3 separate regions of the Homo sapiens genome follow, and regions 2 and 3 are each linked to region 1. The links come from fine-mapping of genetic effects on gene expression. A gene starts in region 1. Each other region holds a variant in brackets. All regions are shown on one strand. Distances are from middle to middle. Region 1 holds the start of FBXO17 (F-box protein 17). Region 2 overlaps FBXO17 (F-box protein 17). Region 3 holds the start of LOC124904713 (a long non-coding RNA gene).

Region 1 (6,576 bases):
AGTAGGCACATGGGGAAACTGAGGCTTGGAGGATGACAGCAACGTGCCCAAGGTCACCCAACAAAGAAGCAACAGAGCCATGTCAAAAGACAAAATTACAACAAATTTAGTTATAGATCTAATGGGCTTTTATTCAAGATTCTTGAATGGGGCAGCCTCCATTTTACAAAACAGACTGAGACCCCCACTGGGTAGTAAGAGAATGGTGGGTTTTATAAGCTGGGACCAAGGGAAAAGAATGATAGAAAAAAACAAACAAAAAAACTAGGCCGGGAGCAGTGGCTCACTCACACCTGTTATCCCCAGCACTCTGGGAGGCCAAGGCAGGTGGATCACCTGAGGTCAGGAGTTCGAGACCAGCCTGGCCAACATGATGAAACCCCATCTCTACTAAAAATATAAAAATTAGCTGGGTGTGGTGGCACGCACCTGTAATCCCAGCTACTCAGGAAGCTGAGGCAGGAGAATTGCTTGAACCCAGGAGGTCAAGGTTGCAGTGAGCTGTGATTGTGCCACTGCACTGCAGCCTGGGCGACAGAGTGAGACCCCATCTCAAAGAAAAAAAAAAAAAACCTGCTGGGATTTGAATCTTGGTATATTGGACTCCATAGTTTGTGCTACTGTATACATGTCTTCTGTCTCTTTCTTTGTTTCAAAATAATCTTACTTTATTTTCTCCCAATTTTTACTATGAAATTTCATTCTATAGACAAGTTGAAAGAGTAATCAAATGAACATCACTATCTGCTCCATATTTTGCCATATTTGCACTCTCTCTTTTCTTTTTGGACAGAGTTTTGCTCTTGTCGCCCAGGCTGGGGTGCAATGGCGCGATCTCGGCTCACTGCAAGCTCCACCTCCTGGGTTCAAGCTATTCTCCCGCCTCAGCCTCCTAAGTAGCTGGGATTACAGGTACCCGCCATCATGCCCTGCTAAATTTTTATTTTTGTCGAGACAGGGTTTCAACATGTTGGCCAGGCTGGTCTCGAACTCCTCAGCCTCCCAAAGTGCTGGCATTACAGGCATAAGTCACCGGCCTGGCGGCCTTGATGAACTACTCTTCAGTACTTCCTAATGAATCTCCTAAGATTAAGGGCAACCTGGCCAGGCGTGGTGGCTCACGCTTGTAATTCCAGCACTTTGGGAGGCCAACGCGGGTGGATCACGAGGTCAGGAGTTCGAGACCAGGCTGACCAACACGGTGAAACCCCATCTCTACTAAAAATACAAAAAAATTAGCCAGGCGTGGTGGCACATGCTTGTAATCCCAGCTACTAGGGAGGCTGAGGCAGGAGAATCGCTTGAACCCAGGAGGTGGAGGTTGCAGTGAGCCGAGATTGTGCCACTGCACTCCAGCCTGGGCGACAGAGAGAGATTCTGCCTCAAAAATTCATTCTGCCATCAATACCCACTCCGTGAACAATTTCCCCTGCTGTCTCTAGCAGGTCTTCTGTGGCTGTTTCCTCCTAACAAGATCCCCGTGGGGGCTCAAACACCAGTGGGGGTGGCAGGTCTCACTCATCTCTTTTAATCTAAAACACTTCGTTTTCCATTCTTCTAAAAGAGATTACATACTTTTATTATAGAAAAAATTAAGGCAAACTTTTCTATTTGATTTCTAAGCCATATGTAGAATTTGATTAGAATTGAAGAAATTAATATTTACATAAATACAAAAATGTTATTTTAAAAATATATCTTTTTGTTTGGGCGCCGGTGGCTCACACCTGTAATCCCAGGACTTTTGATGGCCAAGACGAGCAGATGGCTTGAGCCCAGGAGTTCGAGACCAGCCTGGGTAACACGGCAAAACCCCGTATCCACAAAAAATAAAAAAATTAGTGGGGTTTGGTGGGGGGGCGTGCACCTGTAGCCCTAGTTACTCAGGAGGCTGAGGTGGGAGGATCTCTTGAGCCCAGGAGGTTGAGGCTGCAGTGAGCCATGATTACGACACTGTACTCCAGCCTGGGCAACACAGTTTTGATTTGATTTGATTTGATTTGAGACAGGGTCTCAAATATATATGTGTATATATATATATACATATATATATATACACATATATATACACACATATATATATGTACATATATAGTTTTTTTTTTTTTGAGACAGAGTCTTGCTCTTGTCACCCAGGCTGGAGTGCAATGGCACAATCTTGGCTCACTGCAACCTCCACCTCCAGGGTTCAAGCGATTCTCCTTCCTCAGCCTCCTGAGTAGCTGGGATTACAGGCGCCTACCACCACGCCTGGCTAATTTTTGTACTTTTAGTAGAGACGGGGTTCATGTTGGCCAGGCTGGTCTTGAATTCCTGACCTCAGGTGATCCGCCCGCCTCGGCCTCCCAGAGTGCTGGGATTACAAGCGTGAGCCACCGCGCACGCCCGGCCTAAAAATATATTTTTTAAAAAGAAGCTCCTTAGCCAAGCCTTACAAAAAGAGAGTCAACAGATACTAGGTATATTTAATGGAACAATAAATACAAGTTAAAAAAATTATTTTATGTTAGAAAAGTAGCCAATAGAGAAGCCGAAAGTAATGTCCTGACTATACAGGGAGGTGATTATATAGGGAGGAGGAAAACCACGGAGATGATCAAAGTTGTCTCCTATTTTTAGCAAGGGATCCATGGACGCGTTGTCTAAAAGTTGATGAAATAAGAAATAACAATCCAAAAATATGCTGTAAAGATTTGGAAATAGATACCAGAGGAATAAAAAGTGGAAAAAGTTAAAAACGAGGCACCAGCGATCACGAGTTACTTCTTGCCATTTTTGAAAAGTAATGTAGTTAACAAAAAAATGTATTTGGCCGACAGGGGTTGGGGGCGGTGGTGAGGGAGAGGTTGTTGTTTAAAGGCGTGTTGTTTTCCATGCAAAGCTCTGTCCTGTCCTACGTGTCTGAGTGTCGTGTATTACTGGAACATTTTTAAAGAAGTATTATTTATTTTACAACTAGACTCCCATAATATTTGTCTTTCAAAATATGGAGTAAATAGACGCTGTCTAAAGTTGAAGAGGCAGTATACAGAGCTTTCGAACATATCACTGAACATTGCAAAAGTAACTTGGCAGAACAAAATTTAAATTGAGGGTTGGGGCCGCAGCGAAACACATAATGTGCCCAAGTTGCTAAATCGAGAAACCGCCCTCCAAGGCTTCTGATTCACAGATTCTGCGAAGGGACTGACGGCCAGAAGACAGAAAATCCAGCAACGGTAAAAAGCGGCCTGGCCTTCCCCGGGCTGTTGCGCCCACGTGTTGGTTTGCAGCGTTTGGCAGGGGTTTTGGATGGTGGCCTCCGCGGACGAGCGCAGGGATGGAGAGGCCTGGGCGTTCGAACACCCACGTTCAAAGCAAAGCCCTTCCAGATTTAGGGCTTTCTAACGTGCATTTGTATAACTTTGGGTTTAAAGGAGCCTCAGGCCGAGGGAGGGCCCGGGAAAGCGACGCTGCGGGTTATGGGACTCCCAGGGACCCGCCCCTCCGGGCAGGGCCTGGCGCGGGAATCCTTCCCGGGGCGCCCCAGCTGTGGGCGAGAACGGGACTGACGCTTGGGTCCCGACCTGGGTCCCCTACCTGTCCCGGCGCTCACCTGGCGGGCTGCTCGGAGGCGGCAGCGGCGGGCTAAGCTTCCCTTTCCCACTTTGTTCTGGGAGGCAGTCGAGGGGCTCCCCGTGATCGGCGTGGCCCAGGGGGCCCCGGGACCGGCGGTCTGGGCGGTCGGTCCTCTCCCGGGGCGTGGCGGCTGCAGCCCGGCGCCGGGGGCGGCGACTCTGAGATCCAGCGGGCGGGGGCGGGAGGCCGCCCCTCCTCCGGCTGCGGGGCCCAGCGGGAGCGAGGGCGGGCGGGCGGGGGAGCTTGGAGGGCTGCGTGCAGCGAGGGGGAGGCCCAGTTGCCGCGAGGCCAGCGGGGAGCGGGGCCAGCCCCGCGCCCCTAGGATCCGGGGCCCACCCCTGGGAGAGCCACCTCCTCTGGGTGTGCGAGTTCCACATCCCCAAGACGCCCCCGCGGGGGGACTGGTCCTAGCTCCCCACCCCCACCCAAATTCCGTTTCCTTCTGGTCCTGGCCTCCTGCTTGCGGCCGTCTCCACCCCTCACATCCATGGGATCCTGCACAGGTCCACGGTTGGTAAACCGCTTAGCTGTGAGCCCGACCCAGGGCCTGATTCGAAACACTTGGATCAAAGTCCCTGGCCACAGGGATTTTCTTGTATTTACGTTGCTTCCCAGGGCCAGATTCTCAGAAGCCCGGGGCTGATCTTAAATTAAATCCCTTCACCACACGCACTCTCTGTGGCAATGACAAACCTGTACCCTTCCACCTTAGGACTCCCCTGTCCTCCCCATCCCCCCAGCTATAGACAACTGAATTAATCCGGAGGTTCAGTTTCGGTCAGGCTGGGGCCGCGACCCATTTTCTCCCTTTACCTCTGCCCTTGGGTCTTTGCAGTCCCTTCTGATGGCCCTAGATTGCACCAGGGACCTCAAGGTGACTGATCTCAGACACCCCAGAGCTAGTTTTCTGGAAGCCAGGCCTCCCCCACGCTGGTAAATCATTCTCCAGGCCCACTGGCTCATATCTGCCACTGTGCTAAATGCTTTGTATGCATGACCTCCTCATGGACGCCTCTCCCGAGAAACTGAAGTCCAGAGATACCTGGTCTGTTGCACGTAGTCCAAGTCGCTAGCTTGGAGGGGTCACACAGCCAGAGAGCCTGGATTCCCTAAAGCCCCTTCCCCTAGAAACCTCAGCCAGGCCCCACAGCGCCATCGTGAGGACGGCGTGAGACTGCGTGTGCAGCGCGGAGCACAGTGCTGGACTCAGAGCCAACGCTAATTTGACTACTATTACATTATTTGTAACAACCGCCTTTGAAAGCATTTTCTGCTGTGGGTTGTAAAATTACTGTATTATTGGTAGAGTTTTTAGCACAGATCCACACGCAGTTCCTTATGTGAAAGGCGTAGGCCTAGGTTTGTTTTGCATTCCGGATTTTGGGGGGTTTATTTATTTTATTTTAGTTTTTTGAGACGGAGTCTCGCTCTGTTGCCCAGGCTGGAGTGCAGTGGCTAGATCTTGGCTCACTGCAAGCTCCACCTCCCGGGCTCAAGCAATTCTTGTGCCTCAGCCTCCCGAGTAGCTGGGATTACAGGAACGCGCCACCACGCCTGGCTAATTTTTGTATTTTTAGTAGAGAGGGGGTTTGGCCATGTTGGCCAGGCTGGTCTCGAACTCTTGACCTCAGGTGATCTGCCTGTCTTGGCCTCCCAAAGTACTGGGATTACAAGCGTGAGCTACCACGCCTGGCCGTAAGTAGCCATTTCTTCATGCTGCTCAATTCTCTGACATCCAGGGGCTTGCATATGTAGGGACAAGAATACTAACTAATCTTTGTTCTTTGATAAAACATTAAACAGTTGTTCCTCTAAGTCTTCCTCGAAACCAGATTTCCCTAATCATTTCAACATTCCTTCCAAAAGCCATCGCTTAAAGCCTTCCCAAATCTAATGTCAGATGTTTGCGATTGTTGTAAATACCTTAACAAATAGACAAAGCAATTGTGTGTTATTATAATGATTACAAAGCTAATGCATACTTGTGCTGACACGTGTCACCAGTGTGCTGATACCCATGGACTTGAGCTTGTTTCTTTATTGTTATTATTACAAAAAGTGGAATTGTTTATTTTTCATTTATTGATTTATTTTTGAGTCAGCGTCTGGCTCTGTTACCCAGGCTGGAGTGCAGTGGCATGATCACAGCTCACTGCAGCCTTGATCTCCTGGGCTCAAGTGATCCTCCCACCTCAGCCCCTCAAGTAGCTGGGACTACAGGGGCACGCCACCATGCCCGGCTAATCTTTGTATTTTTTGTAGAGATGAGGTTTCGCCATGCTGCCCAGGCTGGTCTCGAACTCATTAGCTCAACAATCCGCCTGCCTTGGCCTCCCAAAATGCTGGGATTACAGGCATAAGCCACTGCATCTGGCCTTGTTTCTTTATTATTGGTATTCTAGTTTTTAGACTCCTTTCCTGCAGGGAGTGTGATTTGACTCACCCAATATAAGGAGCCCTGGTAACCGCCTCAGACCTGCTGAGGTTTCGGCTTTAGGTCAGAGCCAGTTTCAGGAAGGCTGATGATTCAGGACCGGTGGAGAGGCCTGGGGAACCTCTAGCAGGGCAGCCCACTGAATGCGGTTGTCACTCAGAGCCTGTCCATGTGCTTGGATCTGAACAGGAAGAGAGGTTTTATTTATGGTCTTGGTCGTGCTTTCCCTCGGAGTCACATTTGTTCCTGGTGTCTCCTCACATGGTGCAGGCTGATGTGCCTACTTTGCAGCTCTTTCTGCTGAGCAAGGCCTGTTTCTACCCAATTAAATCTAAAGCCTTCTATCACAATAAAACCTCAACTGTCATTCCCATCAACCAAGAAGAACTGAACTAGGAGGCCCTGACATTTGCCAATCTGATGTGTTATCAAATGTTTACATTGGCCGGGCACGGTGGCTCATGTCTGTAATCCTAGTGCTTTGGGAGGCAGCAGGATCACTTGAGACCAGGAGTTCAAGACCA
Region 2 (5,000 bases), 29 kb before region 1:
GGTGTTGAACTCCTGCCCTCAAGTGATCTGTCCGCCTTGACCTCCCAAAGTGCTGAGATTACAGGCATGAGCCACCACACCCGGCCCAAAATTCATTTTTTAAAGTGTACAATTCAGTGGTTTTTAGTTGATTCACGATATTATGCAGCCATCACCACTACCTAATTCCCATCACCCCAGGAAAAAACTCTGCATCCATGAGCTGTCATTTCCAAGACCTCCCTCCCCCAGCCCCTGGCAGTCGCCAATCTTCTTAGTGTACATTTCATATATGTGGAATCATACAGTATTTGTCATTTCATGTCTGGCCTCTTTCAGCATCATGTTTTCAGTTTATCCACGTTGCAGTGTGAATTCATGCTTCATTTCTTTTCCGTGGCTGCATAACTTTGGCTTTTACTGTGAGATGTAGCCACAGGAGCATTACAAGCAGTGAGACTTCTGATCTGACTCATTATTATTATTATTATTATTATTATTTTTAGTTAGCGTCTCAGTCTGTTGCCCTGGCTGGAGTGCAGTGGGACCAACTGGGCTCCAACCATCCTCCCACCTCAGCCTCCTGAGTAGCTGAGACTGCAGGTGCAAGTCACCATGCCCGTCTAATTTTTAATTTCTTTGTAGAGATGGAGGTCTCGCTATATTGCCCAGGCTGGCCTCAAACTCCTGCCCTCAAGCTGTCCTCCCATCTTGGCCTCCTAAAGTGGTGGGATTACAGGTATGAGCCACTGTGCCCAGCCGAAACATTTACTTTGGTAACTGAGGTGTGAGGATCAAGACAGCATAGTCTTGGTGCCAGATTGGGCTTGAGTCCAGCTCTGCACTGGACCAGTCACATAACCTCCCTGTCTGTGCCTCTGTTTCCTCAACTCTAGAATGGAGATAGGATTTTGCTTCACTGCTGCATTTCCAGCACATAGAGTGGTGCCCAGCACACAGTAGGTGCTCAATCAGTGTTTGTTGAACATTAAGGGGTTTTGCTAATGAAATGAATCGATATGTAAGCGTCTTGACACAGGGCTTGGGATGTAAGAAGGGCTCGATACTTCTTAGCTGTTATGATTATAGATATCCAGGAGTGACAGAAGGGAAACCGAGCAGACGAGAGGCTGGGCGTGTGTGCCTTTAGCGGGTCGGGGGGAGCTGGAAGCTAGTCTGGACCCACCTGTCGGCAGCCCCTCTCAGTCCACTGAAGGACCGGGTCAGGTGAGGCTGAGAACTTGACCACTTCCTTTTCATACACATCCAGAAGGCGGACCCGGAGCTGGTAGACGCAGCCGCAGTTCTCTCGAGCGCCCCACCTGCCAGGCAGCAGTCAGCCTCTATGCCCCCGTCACCCAGCCAGCTCTCTGGGTTTCGGGGCGGGAGGCTGAGGGCTGGCTCCATCTTGATGAAGGTCCTGCACATCTGGACCACATTTGGAGACGTCCTGGCCTGGGAACCTCTAGGGGAGGAGCCTTGGTGGTTCTGGGGTGGAACCAGAGCCTGGCGGAGGAGCCTGGGTGGTCCTGGGGAGGAGCCAGAGCCTGGGGGAGGAGCCTGGGTGGTCCTGGGGTGGAGCCAGAGCCTGGGGGAGGAGCCTGGGTGACCCTGGGGTGGAGCCAGAGCCTGGGGGAGGGTCCTGGGTGGTCCTGGGGGAGGAGTCTGGGTGGTCCTGGAGTGGAGCCAGAGCCTGGGGGAGGGGCCTGGGTGGTCCTGGGGGAGGAATCTGGGTGGTCCTGGGGTGGAGCCAGAGCCTCGGGGAGGGGCCTGGGTGGTCCTGGGGGAGGAGTCTGGGTGGTCCTGGGGTGGAGCCAGAGCAGGGGAGGAGCCTGGGTGGTCCTGGGGGAGGAGCCTGGGTGGTCCTGGGGTGGAACCAGAGCCTGGGGGAGGGGCCTGGGTGGTCCTGGGGGAGGAGCCTGGGTGGTCCTGGGGTGGAACCAGAACCTGGAGGAGAAGCCTGGGTGACCCTGGGGTGGAGCCAGAGCCTGGGGGAGGAGTCTGGGTGGTCCTGGGGTGGAGCCAGAGCAGGGGAGGAGCCTGGGTGGTCCTGGGGGAGGAGCCTGGGTGGTCCTGCGGTTGATTCTGGAGGCTTTTGGGTAGGTAGTTGGGGGACGGGAAAGGATGCTCTGGGGAAGAACCACAATGCAGGGCAGGTGCCTGATGACTTCAGGGAAGAGCCAGAGCCCCAGGGAAGAGACCAGATTTTCTATGGAAGAGCCACAGCCTGAAGGAGGAGCTGGAATGCTTTGGGGCAGAACCTGGGTGTTTTGGGAAGAAGGCATTCATCCTAAGCCTGTAGGCTCTGAAGCCAGTCCTGTCCCAACTATGCTCCCTGAGCCTCAGCTCACAGGGCACCATGCTCCCACCCCTTCAGAGACCCTGGGCATCCACAAGGTGGTCAGGGGAGGTGTCTCGTTTCAGAGGGGTATCAAGCCAGTCAGTGGCCCCCTGTGGACCACCCCAGCCTGCTGGGATGAGGGTGGGCAGGAGTGCAGAGTGGGGGCTCTGGCTTCTCCAAAGCTCTACCTTCCCCGGCTCTGCATCACTTCCCCTCTCAGCCTCATCACAAAGGGTGCACAGTGACAGCCGCTACCCGTGGGGTTGATGGGGCGGGAAATGAGCCCCTGTTGCAGAGCCGCTGCCAAGCCTGCTGCTGCTCTGGGGCAGGGTGCCGCTCCTCACTCACCAGTCAGCCACACAGATCTCAATCTGGGCGCTGTCCAGCAGCTCCTGCCACACCCCTTCCATCACCAGGTCCACAAGCTGCCTCTTGGAGCACCATCTGGGAAGGAGAGATGGCAGGGGGCAGGGCAAACAGTCCTGGCATTCAAGTCACAGTCAGAAGCCACCTCCTCCAAGAAGTCTCCCTTGATAACCCTCTCTAAAGCAGCCCTCAGGGTTTGCTCTAGCAGACCTGAAGATGCATGATGGGCTATACATCTCTCCTTGGCCTCTTGGAGTCCCTTTGCCATTCTCCACCCTGCTGCGGGCTCCAGGCAGCTGACCTCTATGAAAGCCTGACCCTCATCTTTGTGGGACAGGACATGACTACAAATGAAGGCCACATACTAGACATGTGAGC[G/A]GGGAGCTCTGTGGCCTCCTAAAGTGTGAGGGCCCCGGGTCTAAAGCTGGACAGCCTTGTCTCTGTCACCCATTGCTTCCTGTTGGATCAGCCAATGGGATGCTCCGGCAGGGGATGGAAGTGAAAGAGGTGACTAAAATCAGGGTATTTATCCTCTTAGGTCCTTCTCAAGGGACTGCCTTGTCCCCCAAGGAAAAAGCAAATCTCCATGGCACTCTCTCCTCATTTTCCAGTAACTGTTTCCTCCCCTCACCTCTAGCAGTCTAGGGGTGGTAACGTTCCTTTCCTAACTGTTACTAGCTCAGGGGCTCCTGCCTACAACTTTGTAAACAGTCCTTCTCCTCAAACTAGAATGTGCCATAATAACATAAATTGTGCAGTATTGGTGGAAGGATGGGTAAGTTGAGCAATGGAATAGAACAAAGTGCCAGGAACCGGCTGAGCGCGGTGGCTTAGACCTGTAATCCCAGCACTTTGAGAGCCCGAGGCAGGCGGATCACCGGAGGTCGGGAGTTAGAGACGAGCCTGGTCAATATGGTGAAACCTCTTCTCTACAAAAAATACAAAAATTAGCCAGGCATGGTGGCGCACCTCTGTAGTCACAGCTATTCGGGAGGCTGAGGCAGGAGAATCATTGGAACCCAGGGAGGCAGAGGCTGCAGTGAGCCAAGATTGCGCCACTGCACTCTAGACTGGGCAACAAAATGAGACTCTATCTCAAAAAACAAAAACAAAAACAAAAAAAACAGAGTGCCAGGGACAGACGTAGGTATACACAGAAACTTCATAAACTGTAGAGGTGGCACCATCATTCCATGGAGAACAGATTCTCATTTTTTCTTTTCTTTTGAGTCAAGGTCTTATTCTGTTGCCAGGCTGGAGTGCAGTGGCATGATCCTAGGCTCACTGCAACCTCAAACTCCTGGGCTCAAGAGATCCTCCCACTTCGGCCTCCCAAAGTGCTGGGATTACAGCTATGAGCCACCGTGCCCGGCCTTCAGTTTCCTGTTATAAAGTGGGGGCAATAATAGTATCTATGTCACAGGGTTGTTGCCAGAATTATATGTAAAGTGTCTAGTATAGAGTAACTCCTTGTGGAGGCAAAAGCGACTCCATCTTGGGTGCTAATCTGCCATGTTCCCTTTTTTTTTTTTTTTGAGACAGAGTCTCATTCTGTCGCCCAGGCTGGAGTGCAGTGGTGCAATCTCGGCTCACTGCAACATTTGCCTCCTGGGTTCAAGCGATTCTCCTGCCTCAGCCTCCACGTCCAGCTAATTTTTGTCTTTTTAGTAGAGACGGGGTTTCCCCCTGTTGGCCAGGCTGGTCTCGCACTCCTGACCTAAAGTGATCTGCCCACCTCGGGCTCTCAAAGTGCTGGGATTACAGGCGAGAGCCACCGTGCCCGGCCCAAAACCCTGTCTTTAGATCAAAGCTGTCTTGCTGTTGTCTCACAAACTGCAGGCGATGATGCACAGAGCATTGCTGCCTGTGGTTGCTAACCTTCCTGATCTTTCCTTGTATCCCTGGCATATGAAACAGTACCCTCAACAAGTATTTGTTGATTGATGGAATGAATCAATGAATAAATAAATGGGGGAAGGAGAGGGTGAAGGTGACGATGAGGACAGTGTGGGGGGTAGGGTCCCTTTCTTTGGGGCCTTTGCCCCAGGGATCGGGGCCTCTCACTTGGGCCACTCACTCGAAAGAGGTCACGAAGCAGGTCTGCGAAGGAGCCCCAGGCACCGGTGTTAGGTTCTTTTCTATGGCCCAGCCGTTCCCGCCATGCTCCACCTCCCAGCCTCTGAAGCCCTCTGTGGGAAAACAAGAGTTGAACATATGGTTCACCTGCCAGCCTGCCCAGAAGAGACCCCGCAACCAGCCAGCTTGTGCTGTCCACCAGCCTCTCCCTCTTGTGCTCCAATCCTCCCTGGTTTCT
Region 3 (6,576 bases), 36 kb before region 1:
CGGTGAGCTACTTCTCACAGGAGTCAGGATCCGCATCTGCACACTATACAAAGACAAACAACACAGAGTAAAAGCACAATCATCATTGAAATCACAGAGCCTCCAAGTGTTTTTATCCATTTGAATGGGTTACTAGCTGCTAATCTGTCTGCAGCTCCTTCAAGCACTCCAGTTCCTGGCATTAAGTTCACGTGTGCCTGGGATACTTTAAATATTTGTTCTTTCAATTTTGCAATATCCAAATACAAGTTTGTAGAGTGGCCTTCTAGATGCTTTTTTATTCTTTCCCAAATTTTGATTTTATTAAGAGCTATTAACAGTTTCCACAAATGCTTATGTTTAGCTCCTAGAGCAGGCCATATCATTTGAGGCTGAGGTGCCACTATACTGCCATGGTTCCAGATAATAGGAACTCTTGCTGTATTTCTTACCATTTCTATCATCTGACCATTTTGTTCAGATGAGCTGATCACAGTGTGGCCATGGCATGCAGACTGAGAGGTGCAGTTCAAGCTAAACATCCCCATAGGTGACCAATTAATAATGATTCCATAGGAATTGTTGTGCAGCACCTCTGCCTGTTCTGCAAAGCAATCTTCCTAAACAAGTACGTTCATTTTTGCTAACTGGGTCCAATCCTGTTTACAAATATGTTTTTGAGGGCAGTATGCCTCAATTATAGGAGCAGATTTATTATGAGATCAGAAAGCTTGTATAACTGTGTCATAGAGTGATTACATCCAGGCATTATTGCCAGCCAAGATTGATAAATATGCCCAATAAGTATAATTGTCCTCTGTGTCAGCCCTTATTGAAGGAATACTCATGGCAGTGGTGATCATCGCTATCATAGCTACCATTAAATTACTCATTGCGACTGGTTGTCCCACTTTCCTCAGGTTTTCTTCCACCATCTGTGACAGCTTCTTGATCTGTCTCCAGGTGGGTGGCTGTGTTTGACAGGTGTTGCTCGTGACAGTTGGGGTCTTCCTCAGCGTCAGTCTCGACATGGCTGCAACCGGGGGTGGGGGGGGTCCTCAGTTTCCTCCCGGAATCTCTTCCTCAGCATCTGGCTCATGATAAGGTTTCAGGTGTCTTGATGGTATCCAAATCGGCTGTTGAGTCAGTCCTGGAGAAACACAAGCATAACCTCTACCCCAAGTTATTATTTTACCTATTTCCTAACTTTTTGTTATTGGATCTCTCCACCAAACTAGTTGTTCTGCTTCTGTCTTTGCAGCTGGTTTCTGTAGATGCTGTTCAGCTACTGATAGGATCTGGCCTTTAGGCAGGCTCAAAAAATTTAAAGTTAACAATGCTAGATTCAGTTGCATATGGGGTGTCCCGTAGTCCTTGTTTTCCCCCCTTTTTTTTGCTTTTGCAACTGCTGTTTCAGGGAGAGATTCATTCTTTCCACTATGGCTTGTCCTTGAGAATTATATGGGATACCAGTAATGTGTTTAATATTCCGTATAGAGAAAAATGTAGCTAGAGCTCGGCTAGTGTAGCCTGGGGCTTTATCTGTTTTAATAGAAGCTGGAATGCCCATCACTGCAAAACACTGCAAAAGGTGACGCCTGGAAGAGGTGTATGAGCCCTAATGTGAGTGATGTAAAAAGGGTGCATTCTACTCCTAACTGCTGTTTGCAGTTGGGTAAATAAAATCATCAGTTGTTCATCTGCAGGAAATTGTAACTGAGCATTTTCAGTTAATTGTGTGGAATGAATCACGTATGAAGAGTCAGAAATCACATTAATAGGCATATGAAAAGCAGTCACTACCTCAATTACAGCTACAGGCTCCACTTTTTGAGCTGAAGTATAGGGCATCTGAAAAACTTTACTTTTTGAGCCAGAATAAGAAGCTTTACCATTACTAGACCCATCTGTAAAAACATTTTCAGCACCTTCAATTGGTTTAAATTTAGTTATTTTAGGGAGAATCCAATTAGTTAATTTCAAAAATTAAAACAGTTTTGTTTAGGAAAATGGTTATCGAGAATACCCACAAAGTCAGCTTAATTGGTTTGCCAAGTAAGACTATTTATAAAAGCTTGCTGTATTTGTGCCTTTGTGAGAGGGATAATAATTTTTCCAGGATCATATCCATGTAATTTAACAATCCGAGTTCTCCCATTTCCTATCATAGTAGCAATTTGATCCAAATAAGGAGTTAGAGTCCGTGAATTAGTATGTGGAAGAAAAAGCCACTCTACAAGATCTCACTCTTGAACAATAACACCAGTAGGTGAATGCTGAGTTGGAAAAATTAGCAAATCTAGAGTCTTCTCTGGATCTAATCTATTTATTTGAGCTTTATGGACTTGCTTTTCGATTAGCCGCAGCTCTGCCTCAGCTTCTCTTGTTAATTACCGAGGGCTTGTGAGACCAGGATCTCCTCTAAGGATAGAAAATAGATTACTCATGGCATAGGTAGGAATGCCTAGAGCAGGTCGTATCCAATTAATGTCCCCTAGTAATTTTTGAAAGTCCTTTAATGTTTTCAATTGATTCCTATGTATGGTTGCTTTCTGTGGCACAATGGTAGTGTCATTTACTAAGGTCCCCAAGTAGGAGTAAGGAGTAGTAGTCTGAATTTTGTCAGGAGCTATAATTAAACCAGCGCAAGAAATCGAATTTTGTAAGTGATCATAACATTGGAGTAATACTTCTCGAGTGGGGGCAGCACAAAGTATATCATCCATATAATGAATAATGTAACACTGTGAAAACTTTTAACGAGTAGGTTCAATTGCTTGCCCTACATAAGTCTGGCAAATTGTTGGGCTGTTTAACATGCCTTGTGGCAATACTTTCCAGTGAAAACGCTTAGCAGGCTGCAGGTTGTTTACTGCAGGAATTGTAAATGCAAACTGTTCACAGTCTTGCTCAGCTAAGGGGATAGTAAAGAAACAGTCTTTTAAATCTATGACTATTAAAGGCCAATTTTTTGGAATCATAGCAGGAGAAGGCAATCCTGGCTGTAATGTACCCATGGGTTGTATAACTGAATTAATGGCTCTTAAGTCAGTTAACATTCTCCGTTTATCTGATTCTTTTCTTAATTACGAAAACTGGAGAATTCCAAGGGGAAAATGTTGGAGCTATGTGTCCGTTTTCTAATTATTCAGTAACTAATTCCTCTAAAGCCTTCAGTTTCTCTTTACTTAGCGGCCATTGTTCTATCCAAATTGGCTTATCTGTTAACCATTTTAAAGGTATAGGTTCTGGAGGCTTAACAATGGCCGCCATCAAAAATAATATCCTAAACCTTGGCGGAAACTTGTATTTCTGCTTGAAGCGGTTCCTTCAAACCTTGTAAATTTTTTCCTAGTCCCATACTAGGGACATACCCCATTTCATGCATCATATGTTGACTTTGAGGGCTATATAATTGTTCTGGAATTAGAACTTGTGCTCCGCATTGTTGTAATAAATATCTTCCCCATAAATTTATAGGTACAGAAGTTTTGGTTGAATAGTCCCAGGTTGTCCATCAGGCCCTTCACAATGCAAAATATAACTACTTTGATATACTTCAGGGGCTTTACCAACTCCAACTATGTTAAACTGAGCAGGTTGAATTGGCCATGTGGACGGCCATTGCTATAGAGAAATGAAATGTCCGCTCCTGTATCTACCAAACCTTTATATTTCTTTCCCTGAATAGTTATTTCACAGGTAGGACGTTTATCAGTAATTTGATTCACCCAATAAGCTGTTTTGCCTTGTTTATTTGTGCTTCCAAATCCTCCTGTTCGTTTAATTTCACTTTTTCCCATTCCCACATATGGCACATTCAGGAGCTGTGCTATGCGCTCTCCTGGCTCTGCTTTCCAGGGAACAGAAGTAGAAAAAACAATTTGAATTTCTCCATTGTAATCTGAATCAGTGACTCCTGTTTGTACTTGTACCCCCTTTAAATTTAAACTACACCTCCCTAGAAGTAATCCTATTGTCCCC[A/G]CTGGCAAGGGTCCACAGACCCCTGTTGGAACTTTTTGCGGGGGTTCCTCAGGCAGAAGGCTCACAGCTTTTGTGCAGCATAAATCTACTGTGGCATTACTGGCTGTGGCAGGGGACAGACATTGTACAGGGGTGAAGGAGTGGCCTGAGGCGGAAATGCCCCTGGTTTCGAACAGGGCCCGGGATGGGCCCCTCATGGCATTTCCCGAAATCGGGTTCCCATCTTTATCAAACTTAGAGTGACACTGATTAGCCCAATGTTTTCCTTTTTTTACATTTTGGACATATATCAGGCTCAGCAGTTTTCTTTTTTCCCCTGTCTGCCGGCCTGACTTGCTGATTTTTTTCTGCATTCTTTTTTAGTGTGCCCATGCTTCCCACAGTTGAAACAAGCTCCAGGAAATGGAGTATTTCCTTTATCCACTTTCAGTCCTGCCATTGCCTGTGCCAACAAAGTAGCTTTATGCAGATTACCTCTGATACCATCTCAGGCCTTGATATAATCAACTAAATGTGCTTTCCCTCTAATAGGTCACAGAGCAGCCTGGCAATTGAGATTAGCATTGTCAAAAGCTAATAACCGCAACACTATATCCTGAGCAGCCGAATCTGCAATCACCTTTTTAAGATACTCCTGTAACCGAGCTATAAAATCTGTGTACGGTTCTTTTGGTCCCTGTTTTACAGCACCAAAGGAAGGGTACTGTTCTCCACCTGAAGTGATTTTTTCCCAAGCTCTGATGCACACTCCTCTAAGCTGCTCTATGGCATCATCCTGCATGACCACCTGTGCATCTAAACCAGCCCAGCCGCCGACCCCCAAAAGTTGGTGTGCAGTTATATCAATTTGAGGTTGGGCCTGGGTGTTGCGAGGAGCCTGAATGGAAGCTTCATCTGCCCACCAAGTTTTAAATTGTAAGAACTGAGCAGGAGTTAGACAAGCTCAAGTAAGAGCGTCCCAGTCAGGAGGAATCATCCGACTGGAAACAGCAACATTCTTTAACAGTCCCGTTACAAAAGGAGAACCTGGTCCATATTGATTAATAGCTTGTTTAAATTCTTTGAGTAATTTAAAAGGAAAAGGCTCAAATGTAGCTGTAATATTTCCCTGTTGATCTGGGGGATGTATTCTAACAGGGAACTGCCAAGCCTCTAAATCACCCTCTCTTCTAGCTTGCTGAATTCCTGCCTGAATGGAACTGAGAGCAGTCGCTTGAGGCACTGCCCAAACAGTCACTGGGGCAACTACTTTTCACCCAGTGTCCTCTGGAAAAGAAAGATCTGGAGGGTCAGGTCACTCTTTTTCTTCACACTAAGGAGGGGATGCAGAAGGGTAGGGATGAACCTCTTCCTCCTTTGCCACTTTAGCTTTAGCTGGCAAACAAACCTGCTCTGTTACCTCTTCCATTACTTCATTACACTCTCCCTGCTCCTCATCAGTGTGAAAAGGTTCCAAGGTGGAATGAACCAGAACCCACACCTGTCCCATTGCTACCCTGATGCTTCCGAGCTCCCCTTCTTACTCACCATGGGGATTGCTTAAGAGTACTCGGGTGTCCTCCAGCTTAGTTCCACGTTCTCCAACCGTCGCTCCAGTGACTCTTCGACCTGGGTTCGAGCCCCCACGTATGGGTGCCACTTGCCGAGACCAGCTCGGTTGTGGAGACCCTAACCCAGCGGTGCTAGAGGAATTAAAGACACATACACAGAAATATAGGGTGTGGAGTGGGAAATCAGGGGTCTCACGGCCTTCAGAGCTGAGAGCCTTGAACAGAGATTTACCCACATATTTATTGACAGCAAGCCAGTGATAAGCATTATTTCTATAGATTATAGATTAACTAAAAACATTTCTTACAGGAAATAAAGGGATGGGCTGAAATAAAGGGATGGGTCTGGCTAGTTATCTGCAGCAGGAACATGTCGTTAAGGCACAGATCACTTATGCTATGGTTTGTGGTTCAGGAACCCCTTTAAGCGGTTTTCCGCCCTGGGTGGGCCAGGTGTTCCTCGCCCTCGTTCCAGTAAACCCACAACCTTCAGGGTGGGGGTCATGGCCATCACAAACATGTCACAGTGCTGCAGATATTTTGTTTATGGCCAGTTTTGGGGCCAGTTTATGGCCAGATTTGGGGGCCTGTTCCCAACACCAGAGATTTCCCCAAACAGCAGATGACTTTGTTAGTCTCAAGGACAGACTGCCTCAGCGGACCTCTGCTCCCTGCCCACGATCATTACCCCCAAAACATGCCGGCAAGTCTCTGCTCCCTGCGTCGGCAGAGGGATTTATAAGCCCTCTCTTATAAATCCTGGTTTAGCCTTTGTTTTGTGACTGAGTCCACCGAGATCCTTGCAGGAGAAGAAAATTTGCAGGCAAATGAACTAAATGTCTCTTCCTGACACTCCCCTTCTGGGGGGCTGAGGAAGCTGTGAACAGCCTGGTTTGTCACACAGCATGATGGCCACCACACTGAAGCAGCAGCAAGCAGATTCATGGAAGGTGTGCTGAGAACCAGCCACCTGGGAGCCCTACTGTCCCTGGGTATCCTCTGGCTTCTGGCTGCAAAGCTGGTCTTTTTTTTTTTTTTTTTCATTGATATAGGGTCTTGCTTT

The links. PIP is the estimated chance that this variant, and not a neighbour inherited with it, causes the effect.
Region 2: its variant is fine-mapped to the expression of FBXO17 in lung (TOPMed, PIP 0.96).
Region 3: its variant is fine-mapped to the expression of FBXO17 in nucleus accumbens (GTEx, PIP 0.92).

What each region holds. Positions count from the first base shown.
Region 1 is chr19:38,971,991-38,978,566 of GRCh38, forward strand. FBXO17 (F-box protein 17) reads right to left here and starts at 3,752. Exons shown (of 6, transcript NM_024907.7): 1 at 3,596-3,752. RefSeq lists enhancers at 5,699-5,748, 6,199-6,298.
Region 2 is chr19:38,943,804-38,948,803 of GRCh38, forward strand. It overlaps FBXO17 (F-box protein 17), which reads right to left. Exons shown (of 6, transcript NM_024907.7): 3 at 4,764-4,875; 4 at 2,669-2,764; 5 at 1,166-1,301. Among named protein-coding and RNA genes, the nearest start is that of MRPS12, 15 kb to the left of the region's middle. The variant G/A (reference allele first, on the strand shown) is at 3,065.
Region 3 is chr19:38,935,724-38,942,299 of GRCh38, forward strand. FBXO17 (F-box protein 17) reads right to left here. Exons shown (of 6, transcript NM_024907.7): 6 at 5,678-6,576. LOC124904713 (a long non-coding RNA gene) reads right to left here and starts at 5,675. Exons shown (of 2, transcript XR_007067253.1): 1 at 5,491-5,675; 2 at 1-1,129. The variant A/G (reference allele first, on the strand shown) is at 3,964.